Regions from separate parts of the Homo sapiens genome. Here all the other regions are linked to region 2. Evidence: fine-mapped expression QTL. A gene starts in region 2. Each other region holds a variant in brackets. All regions are shown on one strand. Distances are from middle to middle. Region 1 has its middle 55 kb from the start of LINC02653. Region 2 holds the start of HTR7 (5-hydroxytryptamine receptor 7). Region 3 has its middle 42 kb from the start of LINC02653.

Evidence for each region.
Region 1: its variant is fine-mapped to the expression of HTR7 in subcutaneous fat (GTEx, PIP 0.98).
Region 3: its variant is fine-mapped to the expression of HTR7 in aorta (GTEx, PIP 0.99).

Annotation. Positions count from the first base shown.
Region 1 is chr10:90,592,606-90,598,781 of GRCh38, reverse strand. No RefSeq gene overlaps it. Among named protein-coding and RNA genes, the nearest start is that of LINC02653, 55 kb to the right of the region's middle. The variant A/G (reference allele first, on the strand shown) is at 2,396.
Region 2 is chr10:90,855,250-90,861,425 of GRCh38, reverse strand. It overlaps HTR7 (5-hydroxytryptamine receptor 7), which reads left to right and starts at 3,387. Exons shown (of 4, transcript NM_019859.4): 1 at 3,387-4,293. The coding sequence starts at 3,755. RefSeq lists silencers at 3,350-3,719, 3,740-3,789.
Region 3 is chr10:90,579,505-90,585,680 of GRCh38, reverse strand. No RefSeq gene overlaps it. Among named protein-coding and RNA genes, the nearest start is that of LINC02653, 42 kb to the right of the region's middle. The variant A/G (reference allele first, on the strand shown) is at 3,781.

The DNA of each region.
Region 1 (6,176 bases), 260 kb after region 2:
TGGAAAAGCCAGGTGATCAGTTCCTGAGGCACTTGAGGCCCCTGGGAAGTTAGAGCATCCTCTGTGGGAAAGGAAGCCCCTCGTTCCAAAAGAGATAAGTTCAGATACAACACCATCTGCTGGGGAAGCAAAATACCTTGTTTCAGTTGGTTCCCCAGGTCGCCGTTGGACAATTCTGCTCGTTGCATCAATGTAACATATGGTAGTGACTGGGATATAGTAGATGTTCATATTTTTTTTAATACATGAAAGAATGAATATATGAAACAATACAGAAGGCTGGAGAGTCTCTGGAAATTAGGATTTGGAAATATTCAGATTCCAAGAAGGTATTCTTCTGGGCTATCTACTAATAACTAAAGATCCGGATTTATATCTCTGGAGGGATTAATTTATGGCACATAGCTTGAAAATCCATGACATTTCATAGTTTTCTAGGAACTCATGGTGATCAGCTCTTTTCCCTGGGAAACTAGAGGCATCCTGGAAACCATGTCATAATATAGAAAACTTTCAGAGAGGGAGGGCCTTGAGAATCTGGCCAACCCCCGCCTCCCGCAAAACACAAAAAAAACCCCAGCACTTCCCAGAACACATGAAAAGGATGTATAGAAAGTATAATTTAGTCTCTGTATGTTGCCTTTTAGAAACGTACAATCCCTATGGCTTCCAGATCCTCTCAGGGATTGCGGAATTGGTAGGTAAGACATATTTTTGCCTAAGGGCACTTGAAAATTGTTTTTATTCTTCAGCTCAACTCACTAATAACTAAGATGCCTCAGAGTTCACTGGCAACTTGGAGATGAATAGATTCTTCTACCCTCAGCTTAGTCTCTTCATAATAATAAAATACCAGGGCTTTCCAGATCTAATGGCAGTACACTGCCAAGCCAGCATTTTTAGGGAATAGGAGGTGGGGAATCAGGGAACTAGAAAGATATGGGAGATAAAAGCATCCATAGTGAGGGAAGAGATTAGAAAGGAGAGAACAGGGGACTGCATTTAGTCGAGGGGAGTGATTTCAAGGAGGAAACGATTCTAGCCAACCTGAACAAAGAGATGACTTAGATATAAAGATATAGGGGCGTTTTATGGACAACAATGGACAGAAAATAGGAATTAGCAATTCAATTTGTACTCTCTCCATCTCTGTTTCTCTGCACATACATTTTTCATTCTTCTTTCTCTGCCCTTCAGCTTTCTCTACCTCTTACTTTACATGGAGAGGTATGATTGTCTCTCGATGACTTCATTTTTGTTTTTAATGTAATACCTAAGCCACAGCAGAGACTACCTAGCTCTCTTTAATTTGCACTTCTCAATTATTTTGGGAGGATATATGACTTGTCCAGCTTGGGTCAGGGGTCTAACTCCAGACCAATCACAAAGGTTGTAGATCTGGCTTAAGTAGTGAACAACTCATAAAGGTCCATGCCTATGGATGGGAAGTTAGGGGGACAGGGCCTTGAGTCTCATCAAGGACTGGGCATTTACCTCCAGAGGTGTCATGTCAGGTGGTAGAAGGAGAGTCTTCTGCAGAGGAAGAAGCAAGGAAGGAGGGGAATTAGAGGGAACTTGATAGATGAGCTCTTCAAGATAGAGTGCTCCCCAAGCTCTAGCTGCCTTTATTTATCACCTGTTTTTATAAAAGATAACCTTTGAATGAGACTTTCGTAGAGATTTGCAGGAAGGAAGCAATTGGAAATGGCTGGCTAGGGTAACACATCTGGAGTGTATATCTGACAATAGGTCTGGTTAGTCACTGCTTTAGGAGCAGACATGGTCTTAAACTCTCTGTACGCCTTCTTTCATCCTTCTCTATGCTCTATGACCAAAGCAACACATTTTAGGGAAGTTTGGGTGGAATTAGAGGTATCTTCCCAGAGATAGCAATTTTTTCTTTAAGGGCTTGAATGTGATCTTCCTCCTGGCCTCATTAGAAACAGGATCAGCCATCCACATTCCATGAGCCCTGGAGTTACCTGGGGCTCTCTTTAATCTCCCGTACCTAGGACTTTTCTACATAAAGCTTTTTTATCCTTTATTCTGTGACATTTGCTTTGGCTATTATCTCCAGAAGTTAAACTATGTCGAAAGGTTTTTGAAAAATATGAGTGTATTGCCCTGACTCATTGTCATGCGAATAAAAAGACAACTTAAAAGGCTACAGCAGGTATTAAGAACAGTGTTTCTTTACTGAATCCAGGCTGGTGAGTCTTAATCAAAATTTTCTTTCTCATAACCTCCATGTTTCTGAAGTGCCTTTCAAACAATTTATTTTAGAATCTGTGTTTCATTTAGGTCCCTCTGGACATCACATATTAAATTCAGAGAGGCACTATTTATGCCCTCCCCAGGGCAATCTCCATTCCTCTCCCCATACTCAAATTTCCCC[A/G]AAACAGTTTTATCCATTCTCTTATTTAGTGTTGGTTTCCACTGGGGTTTTCCCTTAGGACCTAAGAAAATGAGGAAATAGATGGCTGTTAATGGTTTTTTGGCAGTTTATGAGGGTACAGAGTTTCCTCGTCAGTTTCTTCCCCCAAAATAAAGATCCACATGTCCATTTAATGCCTTCCTCTCAAACTATCTGGACGGTCTTCCCTAAAATAAACAGGACATATTATTAGAACAGAGAAAGACATAAAATGAAATGAGGAAATAGATGGCTGTTATGGTTTTTTTGGCTGTTTATATGGGTACAGATTTTCCTCTTAGGTTTCTTCCCCAAAAATAAAGATCCACATGTCCATTTAATGCCTTCCTCTTAAACTATCTGGACTGGGCTTCCCTAAAATAAATGGGACATATTATTAGAACAGAGAAAGACATAATAAAAAAGAAATAGGACATATGTACACTGTAATCAAGGTGATATTTTAATTCATCTGGTGTTTGTCCGGGCCCTCTCTGGAGGCTCATTCCTGCCATGTAGTCTTGCTCTTTCCACAGTCAGGAAAAGAGAGGATCAGAAGTTAAATCCCTGTTGGGCAAAGTGAATATATCAGTTCGCCAACCATGGATCTTGCCTGAGAAATTTGTGGAGCGGTGTTTTATGGTTTCTTTGAGTTACAAAGTTTTTGAAGCTCATTATTGGCTATAAAGTTTGGACCATGTGTGTCGGAAAAGGAAAATAGACTGTAGTTGCAACACAGTTCGGCATCACAAGCAGGGAAGATGTAACAGAGGCATGTGGATGTTAAAAGAAGCATAGTCTCTATTTGGGCAGGACACAGTACAGGGGAGGAAGAGATAGGAGAGGCCCCAGGAGGAAAGATTAAAAATCAGGTCAGCCTAAGGAAGAGTCTCAAGATGCATGGAGAATCCTTCTCAGATTCTTGATTACTCTCTCTCATTGACATTGAGAGCTAGTTTTCTTGATTTGATCTGGGGCAAAGGGAGCTATAATATGCCTGTTCTAGGGTGAACTGCAAAACAGAAAACTCTCTTCCCAAAACTATCACTTGGTAATGGCTTTGACACCTTCCATATCCTTCTCCTTTTATACCTCCTCCCCAAGTTCATGGAGGTCTGTGCTTTCTCCCATCCTTATCAAAACCTACTCCCAAGAAAGGAAATTATAAGCTTGATTATATAGAAATGAAAAGTCCTACTTCCACCTTCTGCCCATGACATTTGCCATTTAGTAGAGAGAAAGATTTGAACCGGAGAACCACACATTAGAGTTTCCATATTTCAAGTTTTCTCTGGCTACTTGCCTGTTTTGGTTTTCCATGTACCAATAAGATCTGCTGTCTAAAGTTTAGCTTCCTTTTCCCCCTAGCAATTATCTTCTGTTAGTTTACCTTTTTTATCCCATTTTATCCCATTAGGCTGCAACTGAAGTTTAATTAAGACAGACTATACAAAGCCAGAGTTTGGTATGTTGCTACAGAAGCTGTTTTTAGATATAAGCAATTCCTCAACACAGGTGTCCTCCCGAAGGTTATGAGCTCCTTTTTACCTGCCAGACTCCCTTTCAGTGCCACAATGTCTACCTGGTCAGCGTGTGGAGGAGGAGACTCTACCTGCTCTCCTGAAGCTGGGGGGTCAAGACTATCTCCCAGATCCAACCCTGTCTCATAGTGGCCTCAATGCACTCAGAATTTCTAAGCAGGAGAATGTCAATAGGGCAGTGCTATTTATAGGTAAATATTGGGTGGAGCAATTAGCTTGTTCTATGTTGTAAAGGTTCTAATACTAAAAAGGAGATAGGTATCCAAGATGGAAGAAGGCTGACTGACTGCCAGTGAAAGAGAAGGGGAGTAGCTACATATTAATGGATTTTAAAGCAGTGATAGAATTCTCAAGTAGCTTAGTGATATGGTTTGGCTGTATCCCCACCCAAATCTCATCTTGAATTTAACTCCCATAATTCCCACATGTTGTGGGAGGGTGGTGGGAGGTAATTGAATAATGGGGGTGGGTTTTTCCTGTGCTGTTCTTATGATAGTGAGTAAGTCTCATGAGATCTGATGGTTTTATAAAGGTCAGTTCCCCTGCACATGCTCTCTTGCCTGCTGCCATGTCAGATGTGCCTTTATTACTCCTTCACCTTCTGCCATGAATGTGAGGCCTCCCAGCTATGTGGAACTGTGAGTCCATTAAGCCTCATTTTCTTTATAAATTACCCAGTCTTGGGTATTTCTTCATAGCAGTATGAAAATGGACTAATACACTTAGTAAGTAAAATAGAAACCAGTGGTTCTCATTTCTGGCTATATTACAGAACCACCTGGCACTTCTTAAAGTACTGGTGCTTGGGCCCCATGCACAGAAGTTCTAATTTAATTAGTCTGATTGAAGCCCTGAGCATCAGTGTCATTACAAAGCTCCCCCGGTGAATCCAATTTGAAGCTGAAGTTGAGAAATGCACATCTCAGACCAAAAGTGTCCAGGTTTTTCAGTGTTTGCAGTACACAGGTAGAAATGGCTCCTTAGGCCAAGGGGAAATAAGATTCTATCTTGCACTGTACAAATCTGGGCTCTGTATGTGAGTGGAAGGAGCTTCTGGAATCTGATTTTTTTTTTTTTTTTGAGACAGAGTCTCGTTCTGTCACCCAGGTTGGAGTGCAGTGGCATGATTTCGCCTCTCTAAAACCTCCACCTCCTGGGTTCAAGTGATTCCCCTGTCTCAGCCTCCCATATGGCTGGGTCTATAGGCATCTGCCACCACGCCTGGCTAATTTTTGCATTTTTAGTAGAGGTGAGATTTTGCCATGTTGGCCAGGCTGGTCTCGAACCCCTGACTGCAAATGATCCACCCACCTTGGCCTCCCAAAGTGCTGGTATTACAGGTGTGACCCACCACGCCTGGCCTAAAATCTGCTATAAGCCTGCCAGGTGATGCTGATTCAGATGGTTCCATGAACTTTACAGAGTACTCTAAAATAGAGAAAAAAGCATCTCCTTTTTATTCATCTATTGTTTATGATGAATATGTTATTTTGTTTAAGTTCCCAAAGAAAATCCTAGGAGGAAAGGGACATTATTTCAGGTTACAGTTAAGTAAACTCTAGCAAATTGTCAATAAATACAAATCTAGTAAAAGCAAAGCCTGACATCACACAGGAGTATTTAGTTGAAGGGCTAAGGATAAGGAAAGCATTAACCACAGACTTTTCCCTAAGCTTTTCTAGGCTTCTTGTTGGTACACTAGCTGGCCCCCAGGGGTCATGAGCGACTAGCTCAGAGGAGGTGGGTGAGAGGAGCTGGTTGAGAAGAAGTGAGAAATGCAGCTGTGGGCATAGGCTGGCCTGGGCAAAAAAAGCTTCTGAGATGGTGCTGCAGTCAGAAGACTCTCTCGGTGCTGCAATTTCTGAACAATTGCAAACTCTGGCAGCCTTGCTTGTAAGAAAAAGCCAATAATTTTAGAGGGAATTAGAAAGCCTTGCTGCTTTAATTCTTGTTTTTCCTGCTGTCTGTCAAATGTCAATCTTTGTTGTCCTGATAAGGAACTACGTTCCCTACCAGTAAAGAGAATCTGAAAGCTTCATAAACACCCATTTGTGCATATAAATACATTTGGGAGAAGGGTGACATCATCAGAGCAGTGACAGTTTTTGAATGGAGAAGGGGAGGGGAGTGAACTAAAAGTAGTGATCTTGTCTTCAATGTGTCTGACTTTTGAGCAGGAGAGAAACCCATTTCCTGCTAGTCATTTCTTCTCTGTCCCTCAT
Region 2 (6,176 bases):
GCTCTGTCAGGATTTTGGAATAACACAATGATAGATGAAATTTAAACTCAACATAAGCAAAGTAATGCTGCAGAAGCCGAGATTTTCAATAACTATGTTTATGCATTGTGACAGCTTATAAATTAGAAACCTAGCAACTCTTAGGAAATACACTCAGCCATCACTAGGGATAATATAACAGAGGTGACTGTTCTATAAAAAAGGGAGCTTGGACTTGATGCTATATTGACAATGAAGGAGGTAGTAATTTAAAAAATAGTATTTTAATGATTATTTGCTGTATTTATATGTCACACAATTTAAAAGTTGTTATGGAATAAACATTTGTTTCCTCCAAAAAATTGGTATGTTGAAATCCTGCTCCCCATTGTGGTGGCATTAGGTGTGAGAGAGTATCTCATTGTGGTTTTGATTTGCATTTTCTCTGATGGTTAGGGATGATGAGCATTTTTTCATGTTTGCTGGCCACCTGTATGTCTTCTGTCGAGAAGTGTCTGTTCATGTCCTTTGCCCACTTTTTAATGGGGTTATTTGTTTCTTGCTTGTTCCTTCATTTAAGTTATAGATTCTGAACATTAGGACTTTGTCAGATGGGAGAGGGAGATGATTAAGTCATGAGGGCAGAACCCTCCTGAATGGGATTAGTACCCTCATAAAAGGGACCCCAGGCCAGGCTTGGTGGCTCATGCCTGTAATCTCAGCACTTTGGGAGGCTGAGGCAGGCGGATCACTTGAGGTTAAGAGTTTGAGGCCAGCCTGGCCAACATGGTGAAACCCGGTCCCTACTAAAAACAATACAAAAATTAGGCAGGTGTGGTGGCATGTGCCTGTAATCCCAGCTACTTGGGAAGCTGAGGCAGAAGAATCGCTTGAACCTGGGAGGTTGAGGTTGCAGTGAGCCGAGATCGCGCCACTGCACTCCAGCCTGGGTGACAGAGCAAGACCCTGTCTCAAAAAAAAAAAAAAAAAAAAAAAAAAAGAAAGAGAGACCCAGAGAGCTCTCCTACCCCCTTTGCCAGGTGAGGACACAGCAACATGGCTAAATTTACTGTTGCCTTGTTCTTGGTAAATGTTTGTTGTTAAGCCACCCAGGCTATGATATTTTTGTTATGGCATCCCAAAGGGACTAAAACAAGACAAAAGCAAAAACTAGAAGCTGTTGTGAAATATAAATGGGCTACGTGAGGGCTGTAAGAGTGTAGGTGGTAAATCATATTGACTAGAGGTTTAAATACAAATAAAATGATTAATTTTCAAAATCTGTGTGTAATTACTCTGGAATATTATTTGACAGAGCCAAGACAGAATATATAAGCTGAACTGATTAGGGTATTCAAGGGGAAGAATACAAAAGTCAAAATAAGTTAAAATGAGTTGAAAAGTTAAAATGAAAAAAATATCAAAAGTATCTTGGGGAATATACTACATGAAGGAATTTTTAAAAGACCTTAAGACAATTCCAAACCTCAAAATAAAAAAATGGAGACATTTCAATGCAGTCACATATGATCTTGGATAAGTTATAAAATTTCTCCCAGCCTCTATTTCCTCCTCTGCACTGAAGGGTGAACAAATGGTTTCTTAGATGCATTCCAGCAACAAACTATTTGTCTTTTGTCTGAGATTTCCTCTCTCCCAAGATCCCCAGTGGATGCCTAAAACCCCGGATAGTACCCAATCGTATATATACTATGTTTTTTTTTTTGATCTGGTAAGAGAGAGGGCTACTAAGTGACTAATGGTGGATGGCATATACAGTGTGGATATGTTGGACAAGGGATGATTCATATCCTGGGTAAGATAGAGATTTCATCACGCTACTCAGAATAGTGTGCAATTGACAACTTACACATTGTTTATTTCTGAAAATTTCCATTTAATATTTTCGGACCGTGGTTCACCACAGATAACAAACCAAGAAAAGCGAAACAGAGAATAACTAACATAAGTAAGGTTGAAGAAATTTCCTCATCCATCTTAACTGTTAGATAATATTGCTTTGTGGCCTAGGTATTATATTCAACTCTTCCTCTGACTCAATGGATTGGTTTGCTTATCCTAGGCAGAGAGGAGCCTCTGAAATGTTGATCACAGCAAAAGAGCTGTGAACATTAGGGCTTTTTTTTTTTTCCATTAAAACTTTTTCTGAATGTGTACAGGGAAGAATATGGGCATAGTAATCAGATAAACTTGGGTTTGAAACATAACTATTCCTTACCAGCTGATTGCAAGAGCTAACAACCTTCCCTATCTGGAAAAACAGAGCTAATACCCACCTTGAAGAATGAAAGTACTATTCAGCACTCTGATCAATATACTTTGAGGTTTTTATTCCTTTTCTTCTTATTTATAATCCGCTAGGGCCTAACAAGAAAAAACAGATTTGATTATTTTTAGAGTCTTAAACTACAGAAATCACTGCTGGCTTCCAATGAAACCTTCAAACAAAATGGAATGAAGCAAGTCTCACAAATAATAAAAATCAGCCGCTCTGACAGGGTTTGGATACCAAGGGGAATTTTAGCCAATAGGTATTAAATCAACATACACCTCCAGGATTCCTTTATAGAAGAGTATAACCGGTCATTTCTTTGCTTATGTGTAAGACTTCCAGAATGCTACGGGAAAATTAACTCTCTTTTCAATATATTAGGCTTTGAAGTCTAAATATAAAGGCAATCAGGGTCTATTTTCAGAGCGGAGAGGACTGTTTCTAGACATCCAGGAAGGATTAGTCCAAATGGGTGTAACCCCCTTGGAGGCCTTGTCCCCAGAGCATCCTCATCTCCTGGGTGCCAGGGGCTTAAGGAATCCCCCTCCCTCCTTTTTTTCTTTCTTCCTCTTCTCGGAGCTCCCACCCTCACCCCATTCGGCTGCTTCTTTTCCATCTTCGCTTCTTCCCATAAGCGGTCAAAATAGAAAACGGAAGTACCTATTTGTTGCTTAGTGTAGTGCTCAGAGACGTTTTTTTGGTTGTTGTTTAATTAAGAAAAATAAAATCCCCCTCTAGGTTCTTCATTTCGCAATGAGCCCAAACATCCGCTGGCTCATTAGGCCTCTTAACAAAAGAAAAATGCCCCCACTGAACTGTGGCTGACTAGTGTGCGGAGGCTGGGGTCGGCTGGAGGGGTTCTAAGTATCTATCATGCGGCAAGGACAGCTTCCCGGGCGAGGGGACCCGGGATCCCGGGAGGCGCGTGCAGCGCCGCCCCCTCACAGTAGGGAGGCGCGGGAGAGGCGGCGGTGCCTGCCCAGCCCGGGTATCCCGTCCCAGGAGCGCGAGGGAGCGGGCAGCGGCCGGAGGCGGCGGCGGCGGGGACGCGGCGCGGCTGCCGCAGGGGAGCGGCGGCGGCGGCGGCGGCGGCGGCGGGCGCGAGGGGCGGGGCGCACTCCGCAACTTCTGCCGCTGCCGCCCGGGCGCTCTCGGCGCAGCCGAGCTGCTGCTGCGAACTGTGGAGCTGCCAGCGGAGCCCAGCCCGAGCTCCCTCGACTCCGCGCGTCCCAGGCGTCCGTCGGGGGCCGAAGCGCCTCCCGCAGGGAGTCCCCGTGAGGCCGCGCTGCCGCGTTACCCGCAGCGGCCGGGGGTCCGGGGAGTGCGGGGCTCCGAGACAGAGCCAGGCGCCCCCCAGCGGTCGGCGCGGGCCCCATGGCTGGGCCGGGCGGAGCGGAACCGGTGAGGTGAAGCCCCGGGGCCGGCAGCCGGAGGCGCGTGGCCGGGGCGCCGGCTCCATGGGCAGCGGCACACGGCGGCGCGATGATGGACGTTAACAGCAGCGGCCGCCCGGACCTCTACGGGCACCTCCGCTCTTTCCTTCTGCCAGAAGTGGGGCGCGGGCTGCCCGACTTGAGCCCCGACGGTGGCGCCGACCCGGTCGCGGGCTCCTGGGCGCCGCACCTGCTGAGCGAGGTGACAGCCAGCCCGGCGCCCACCTGGGACGCGCCCCCGGACAATGCCTCCGGCTGTGGGGAACAGATCAACTACGGCAGAGTCGAGAAAGTTGTGATCGGCTCCATCCTGACGCTCATCACGCTGCTGACGATCGCGGGCAACTGCCTGGTGGTGATCTCCGTGTGCTTCGTCAAGAAGCTCCGCCAGCCCTCCAACTACCTGATCGTGTCCCTGGCGCTGGCCGACCTCTCGGTGGCTGTGGCGGTCATGCCCTTCGTCAGCGTCACCGACCTCATCGGGGGCAAGTGGATCTTTGGACACTTTTTCTGTAATGTCTTCATCGCCATGGACGTCATGTGCTGCACGGCCTCGATCATGACCCTGTGCGTGATCAGCATTGACAGGTAAGGGCCGGACCGCCCCGTCCCAGGCTCCGGCTGGGGACCGGCTGGCAGCTCAGCCCCGCGCGCTCGCCTTTCCTGGGAGGATCAAGCTAGACTTCAAGGCGGGATGAAGGGCTGCGCTTAAAACACCGCTCCCCCCAATCCACCCTACACCAACCAAACTTCGGTTACGGCATAGCCTATGTACATCTTTAAAAGAAAAACCGGAAATGTTCTGGTTTACTGTAGTGACGAATTTAAGACCAAAGTTAAGAGTATTTTAAGCCTTAGCATTTCCACCAGCGGGTCCCTTGCCTTGGTTTTTGGAAGGAAGGGATTTGGTGCTCCCTGACTTGATCAAGCCTTGCTGTGAGCCTTAAAGAGTCATTAAAAAATAATAATAATAAGTCGGAGAAAAGCCACCTTGCTTACCCCATTGTGGGAGCTACTCCCTAGGCCAGTAAAAGGACCTTGGATGGTTCTAGAATTGGGGTTTGTATGTCTTACACATTGCATCTTTATGATGGTCAGTTCGGAATCGCATTCTTGCTTGTGGAAGTCTGGTTTCAATGTTTGGTAATGCTGTCTGTATCTTGCGAGCTTGCTGACTGGAGCCTTCCTCCAGGTCTGAATGGCTGGTTCTAGCCTTTCATCATAGCCCTTGGGAACCTTCTCTTGAGAACTCCCCCACTGGAGTAATTGAAACAGAGGCTGACCATCTGTCAGGGATGCTAGGGGAAAAATTCCTGCCTTGGGTGTCATATTGAACTAGGAGACCCACAGGGTTTCTTCAGGCTGTAAGGTTACAGGCTTTTGAAATGGAGCTAGTCTTTGACCCTTGAAATATTATGCAGTTGACAACTTGAAGTATGGTCTCAATCCTCTTTGGCCTAAAACAACTCTATTTCACTTGAAACTGAAATATGAGACCTTAATATTCACACTCAGAATTTTGCCGGTGTTTCAAGACTAGTATCCTGTTGTGTTTAATGATACAGAGAAATGGTTGCTTATTTTCTTAGTGGATCTATAGAACCTTTATATGTGTAGATCTTTCAGCCTAGGGGAAATAATTGATGCCTCCACACTTAAAATGACAGTGCCTCAAAGGATGGTCTAGCATGAAACTGAGATTTTCCTTTTTTTCTTCTTGAAAACACTGCTGTTTGTGGTTTGCTGGTACTTAAAATGTTCTGCTGTATGTATTTTTTGCTTGACCAGGGTTTATAATTACTAAATAAAGGAAATAATAGAAAAGGGAATATTTTCAAGAAGAAAAACACATTGTAGCTCCATTTAGCTAACAATTTAGGTTATTTTTCTTTAAATTGATTCTACCATTTTATATATCATGGTAGAAGCTGCTGACAGCAAACAAGGAATTACTTAAGAGCAGAGCATGAACTGCATATGTGAGAATATTAGCACCAAATTTGGCAGCTGAAGTTCTGAATTACAGTAGTTAAGAATGACAAAACATATGTATTTACAGTCTGACTGTGGCAACTGGAATTAGGAGAGTGCACTCAATACACATAGTAAGTGTATACATGAATTATAAGCACAGAAATCTGACTGCTCAGCCAACCAAAACAGAGCATCCTGCATGAATGGAGTCCTTTTAAATGGAACTTAGTGTAATAAAACAAATAACGGTTTATGCTGCAAGTACTGTATTTATAACCATTTTTTAAAATTTCACAGTTGATAAATGATACATAAATAATACCTTGTGCTAATTTGTCTCCTAAGACAGCCAGTGTTTCTCCTCTTCTGGGCTACATTGAGGTTTGGCTGAGATCACCTTGTGATTCCTATACATGAGCTAAAGGCATTCTCCACTCAGCGTGCATGTGTGACTTAGCATCGGCAGGCATGTCCTGAATACTGAGAAGACATTAATC
Region 3 (6,176 bases), 280 kb after region 2:
CCACAAGCCTGAAAGTACTATTATCTTTTTTATCCACATGAAAGAACAGAGGCTCAAGTAACTTCCCCAAGGTGATAGGACAGGAAGGATTTAAACTCAGTCTTTTAAGCTCCAGCAGTACCACTCACCTCCCTGTAGGCCTCTCGTTTATTAAAAAATGAGCTTGCAGTGTTACATGAAAGTAATTTTAGTTTATTATTAGACTATAGAATTCATTGCAGTCCTTTGACCATTCTCTTGTCACAAATTTAATATTGTTAATTAAAGAAATAAAATATTAATTTCAGAACAGCAATTTTCTGGGACTCCTGTGATAAACTGATAGTACTTTTGTCTTTTGTACCATGGAACACTAGTTGATACAGTTACATGTAGAAATACTTTAAAGATTGATGCCTTTTACCCTTTTTGAGCTATGATATGATTTATAATTTATTTTGCTCAGGACTTGTGTTGCTCAAGGAATTTATGTATATGAACATGTATTGTCCTTCAAAGAATTCACTGTGGTAGGTCAAATATTTATTTCAACTCATATCCTCATTGGTCCCTCCCATTGGGAATTATTTACAGACCTAGTTAACAATCTGTGAAAAAAAATCTATCCAATTTTAAAAATACTTCTATTAGTGAGATTTAAAATATATGTTTAACATTTATTAAATTAAAGATCTGTTGCCTAGTTCATGTATACCCAAGGTTATATGCTTTAGAGATGATGTGGGAAATTGAGGCCATATTTCTAAGATTTCTCCAATTACTACATATGGTATAGCTGATTAAAAATTGGAAATATTTTTATGCATTGAAACTCACCCACATGCTTCCACTTGGATGACATTGTCAACTGTTTTGCCTCTAGACAAGTCTAAATATAGTTTAATTTCCATCCAGTGTGGAAATCTGCAATCTAATACTGCTGATGAGCTGCCCTCCAAATCCAACTTTTAAATTTTTGTAAACATTATTGATATTAGTTAGATTAATTTCAGATTTGCAAAAAGGCACATACATGGTTTTTCTAACCATTTCGGATTTTGACTTATTGAGAAAAAAATGTTTTTTCATTTTCTTTTATTTTTTTTAAGTAAAGGTGAGTCAAAGACAACTGTCCAGAATGTTATGCAGAAAAGCTTTCTGTGTTGTTGAAGAATGTGGGCTTTGGAGTCAGATCACCTTACTTAAAATCTGACTCTGCAACATACTGGCTACCTGTCTTTAAGGACCATGTGTGACTTTTCTGTGCCTCAGTTTCTTCATCTCTTTTCTGGTCTCCATCTTGCTATTGAAAACTTTGGTATAACTTTAATTACTCCTTTGCAGGGTAATCTATCTTTTTCTCTTTCTTCTCCTTTTATGTTTTTATTTCCAATGTCTTTGATATTCTGCTATTTTTCTATGATAAATATACATGTAGTTTTTTTTTTATTTTGCTCAGGACTTGAGCTTATGCAATCTTATGTTACATGTATTTTATTAACTTGAAAAATTTCACAGACCTTACCTTTTTGAATATTGCTCTCCCACCTCTTCCTTTCCTCATACTCTTAATAGACACATGTTGGACCTTCTCCTTTTGTTCTGCGAATCTTTTAACCTATTTTACATTTCTATCACTTTATGACTCAGTGCTACATCTTGGGTTATTTCCTCAGCTCTATCTTGTTACTTGATTCTCCCACTGACTATGTAGAATTTGTTGTTTTTTCCAGTCTACTGGATTTGAAATCTCAATAAATATTTATTTCATTTCTATAAGTTCTTTTGTTTCTTAGACTTTCTATTTTTTGTTGTTTCTTATTCTTTGATTTTCATTTTTTCTTTTATCTCTTTAGCCATTTAAATTATTTTATAAGCTTGTTCAGATTATTATTTGTCCTTCTAGGTTCTCTACTAATCTGATTTATTCTGTCTGATAACTATTTTCTAGCACATTTTGTAATTTTTGATTAAGAAATTCTTGTATGTCGTTTTTTTTCTCTTGTAGGAATTTCATATGACATTGGTTCAGAGCAGTTTTTCATTTTCCTCTGCTACATACTTCAGTGAAGTAGGCTTGGATTCTCATCACTCATGAACACTGTAAATTGGACTCTACATCTCAGATTACTTAAGCTTGAGGTTTTGATTTCTCATGGTAATTTTTTTTTTTTTACTCACCCAGAACCCAAAATAAAGAAAATGTTATTGCTGGCATCCTAAGACATGTAGACACATTTTATCGAGCTCCTCATTTTCTGTGGGCGTAGCACTTTAAGGGTCCTGTCTTTATACTGGGATTTACATCCCCACTCCTGACCTCACATAGGTTTAATTTCTCTGCATAGATATTAATGTCCAACACCCTAGCAATTAGAGATCTCCTGAGTTCTATACTCTCCTGCACACCACTCATGCCATCCTGGCCACTGAAGCATCAACTTGTGTGCTTACCACTCTTTTAGTTCCTGATGTCTGGGGATTTTACTCTTTTTTAGCTGCCTTAGTAATGTATTTTAAAAGATTCTTTTTTACTTTATTCAGAATTTGTAAGCATTTGCAGCAGGAGTAGTTTATTCATTTGTTTAGTCTATCACATTGATGAAACCAAAATTGTAGTGTCATCTTGAGGATTAAATGAGATTTTGCATGTACAAAGTTTAGCGTATTGCCTGACTTAAGTTTGATCATATTTTTGATATTAGCCATTATTATAGAACAATTTGTGTAGATTCAAAATGAACCTCAAGCTACTGCTGAGAGGAGGAAGAAGCAGTTTTAGTACCTATGTTTTTGGTTATTTCCACACAAAGTTCTATGATTAGTCATAGGCTTAGGTACTGACCAGCATACATAGTTTCCAGCACTGTTCCTGGAAGTTCTCAACTTTTAAAATTATACCCTCCAATGTTGGATGTTGCCAGTGGATTCTTGTTTTTGTCCAATTTTTGTCATAATAATTTCACTGTGTTTTTCACAAAGGTTTTATGAAGGACAGTCAAATTCTTTGCCTACAAAACGATACATGGTGTCCAGAATACCTTTTACTAACCTATCAATAAAATTAACATAATTTGCAAAGATGACAGGAGATTTTCTCCAATAAAATGAAATCCTAGACCATCTAGGGCAATGAACAAAAAAAGTATTAACAGTAGCTCCTGCTTAACTATGTCATCTAGTACAATTAGTGTCATAAGTCATTGATGCTAAGCAGATGGTAATATTTTCTTTGGCAATTAATGAAAACATAGTACAGTGCTATGAAAAAAAAATGGTATAATATGACTCCATAAAAGAATGAAGAACACTGATTAAGAGATATATTCTAGATTCTTTAGTAGAAAATTAATCCTTAGTTTTGTGAAATTTTCATAAAAATTTGAAATGAATACATACATATTATATCAAGAAAAAGTATTCTTTTTTATTATACTTTAAGTTCTAGGGTACATGTGCACAATGTGCAGGTTTGTTACATATGTATACATGTGCCATGTTGGTGTGCTGCACCCATTAACTCGTCATTTACATTAGGTATATCTCCTAATGCTTTCCCTCCCCCCTCCCCCCAAGTATTTTTTAATTAAACTATATACAGAGTTATTTATAATTAGCAAAGATGGAACTAACCTATAACCTATTAGCAAAGATGAAATTAACCTATAAACTAAACTATAATGAGAATGGTTAAGCATGCTTATAGTCTTTTTTAACCATAGAATATTTTGGTGTCATTAAAATAATGTTTATGCAAATAAGAATAACCCAGTATCACCACCTTATACTCAGAGCAAAATG[A/G]TTAGCTGCAAATGGTTTTATTATTAACAAGAACGAATAAAAAATAAAGCAAGTATACTATTCAAGAATCTAGAAAAATTAAAAATTAGGCTAAGGAAAATAGAAATAGAAATAAACAATGATAAAAGCAGAAGTATAAATGAAGCCATAAATGAGCTTTTTGAAAAGTCTAGTAAATAGCTGAAATCCTGGCAATGCAAATGAGGAAGAGAAGTCATACATATGTAATATTTGAAATGAGAATGAGGATATAACCAGAAACATTAAATCAATTTAAAAACAAAATACTAATAATATGGAGAATCCAAGTGGAATATTTTGAAAATATTAACAAATAAAAAATATCTTAAAAAGAAGTAGAAAGTGTATATAATATAATGGCCATACTGAATTTTATATTTTATCATGAATTCACCATTGATTTGATTTCAGCCTGGACCATTTTACAGGTGAATTCTTTCAGACCATTCTTAAGGTATTGAATCTATTCCAGATTTTTGATTAGAAATCTTAAATTAAGGCATATTTATTACTCTCCTTTAAAAAAAAATGAAACCTGTCAGAAACAGCAAGGAAAAAAAGAAAGGGAGTAATCCACCATCTACAATGACCTAAGAAATAATGTCTACTACAGCTTCAAACTATGAAGTATTCTGGCCAAAGATATCTCTACAGAGGAGAAAGCTTGTTGATAGTCAAGTGGTATTTGCATTCTGCCAGGTATGGGTTTCTCTGAAAGTAAGCACTGTAGTCCTTAAATGAGAAGCCACTGACTGACTGCAAGCTAGAGGAATGAGGCAGTCATGAGAAATGCAGGCATGTCCCTGTAACGACTTAGTTAAAAAACACAGAAAGTCAAAAACTGCAACTGAAGAATACAGCTTATGTCATTTCTATGGTCTCTAACCAATCCTCCTAATTGAGGCGGATGCTTAGAATAAGGTAGAGTGATTCAAGGAAAAAGACAAAGCAGTTGCATATTGTAACAGAAAGCTCATGGGGCAGAAACAACTAATCATAATGTTAACCCTTGTTGAACTATTATATGTGGCAGAAACTGTTCTAGATTTAATAGTGACTCATTTAATTTTTATAACAAGCTATAAAGGGACTATGCAGATAAAAAAACAGAGATACAGATAATTTAAAGTACTATTTCAAGACCAAAGAGCTAGCAGGGAGCAGCATTGGAATTTGAATCCTGTGGGTGACTTCAGAGCATAGGTTTTGAACTACTGTCTTCTGTACTCCCTTTTCTCCCTACCCTCAACTCTACTATGCTTTTCCCTCGGACACTAAAAGATTTAGTCAGAGAATAAAGGAGAGATCAGACAAAAGAGAGGCTAGAGATTGCCAGTTCACACTCCTCTCTCCATTTTCTCCACAGAATAGTCTTGTATTCCTCTCTAATTTGTCCTGAGCGCTCTCTCTCTGGAGATTGGCTATAAACTCCAGCCTTGCCCTGATGCAGATCCATGGGATTTGATCCAGGATGTTTACAATATGCCTTTCATGGGATACAGATGCTTTTTTTTTTTTTAATTCTGGCAGATGGCTTAATGCCTAAGTGTACAACATATGACTTGGTGTCCCTCTCACAGTAAATTTGTCTATGCTGGCAGATACCCCTATGGCTCTTGTCTGACCTGTGTCCAGTTTATAACACCAAGATAGCCACTCTCCAGGAGAGCTTTGACTAGAAGGAAAGTTAGATGTGGGTGTGTCAATTAGGTAAGACAGAGGAGGCAACACAGCACAAACACATGAAATGTCAGAAGCAGTTTATTATGTACAGATCCCAAAGAGAAGAGGGGTGTCAATGAGGGTTGACAGGAAGTCTGGAGCCAACAGAGTGCCCAACCTGTAGGTGGAGTGTGGAGGAAGATCTATGAGCCAAGGACTTTATTAGGGTGCAGGGCATTACCCAAGCAGGCTTCCCACAGGAAATTCTAACTGGCATGTTTAGAGCAAGCTAGCATGAATCTCAAAGGGTCATGTTGTGACTGAGAGTGGTTACTGTGGCATGTATGTACAGTCTATGTAGGTGTGGGGTCAGTGGAGTGAGTCAGCTAGGTTGTATCTCTATGTCCCGTAGGGAGGTAGCCACCAGGAGGCAGACATTTGGATTGACCACATTGAGGAACTGGGAAGAGGCAGAGAACTGGATATGTGTCAAAGGTAACTAAGCCTTGCTTCTGGTATGAGAAAGTTAAACCTAGATTCAAAATGGATGCTGAAGCAACATAAAGTTTTAACAATTTACTCCACACAGTTCCTTATCTGGAATCTGGCAGATGAATCATTCAGAGATGAGTAAAAATCTTAAACAAAAGGAAATAAATATACATTATTAAATGAGTTGCCCAAAGAATGAAGGGTTCAGTTCAATAGAATTT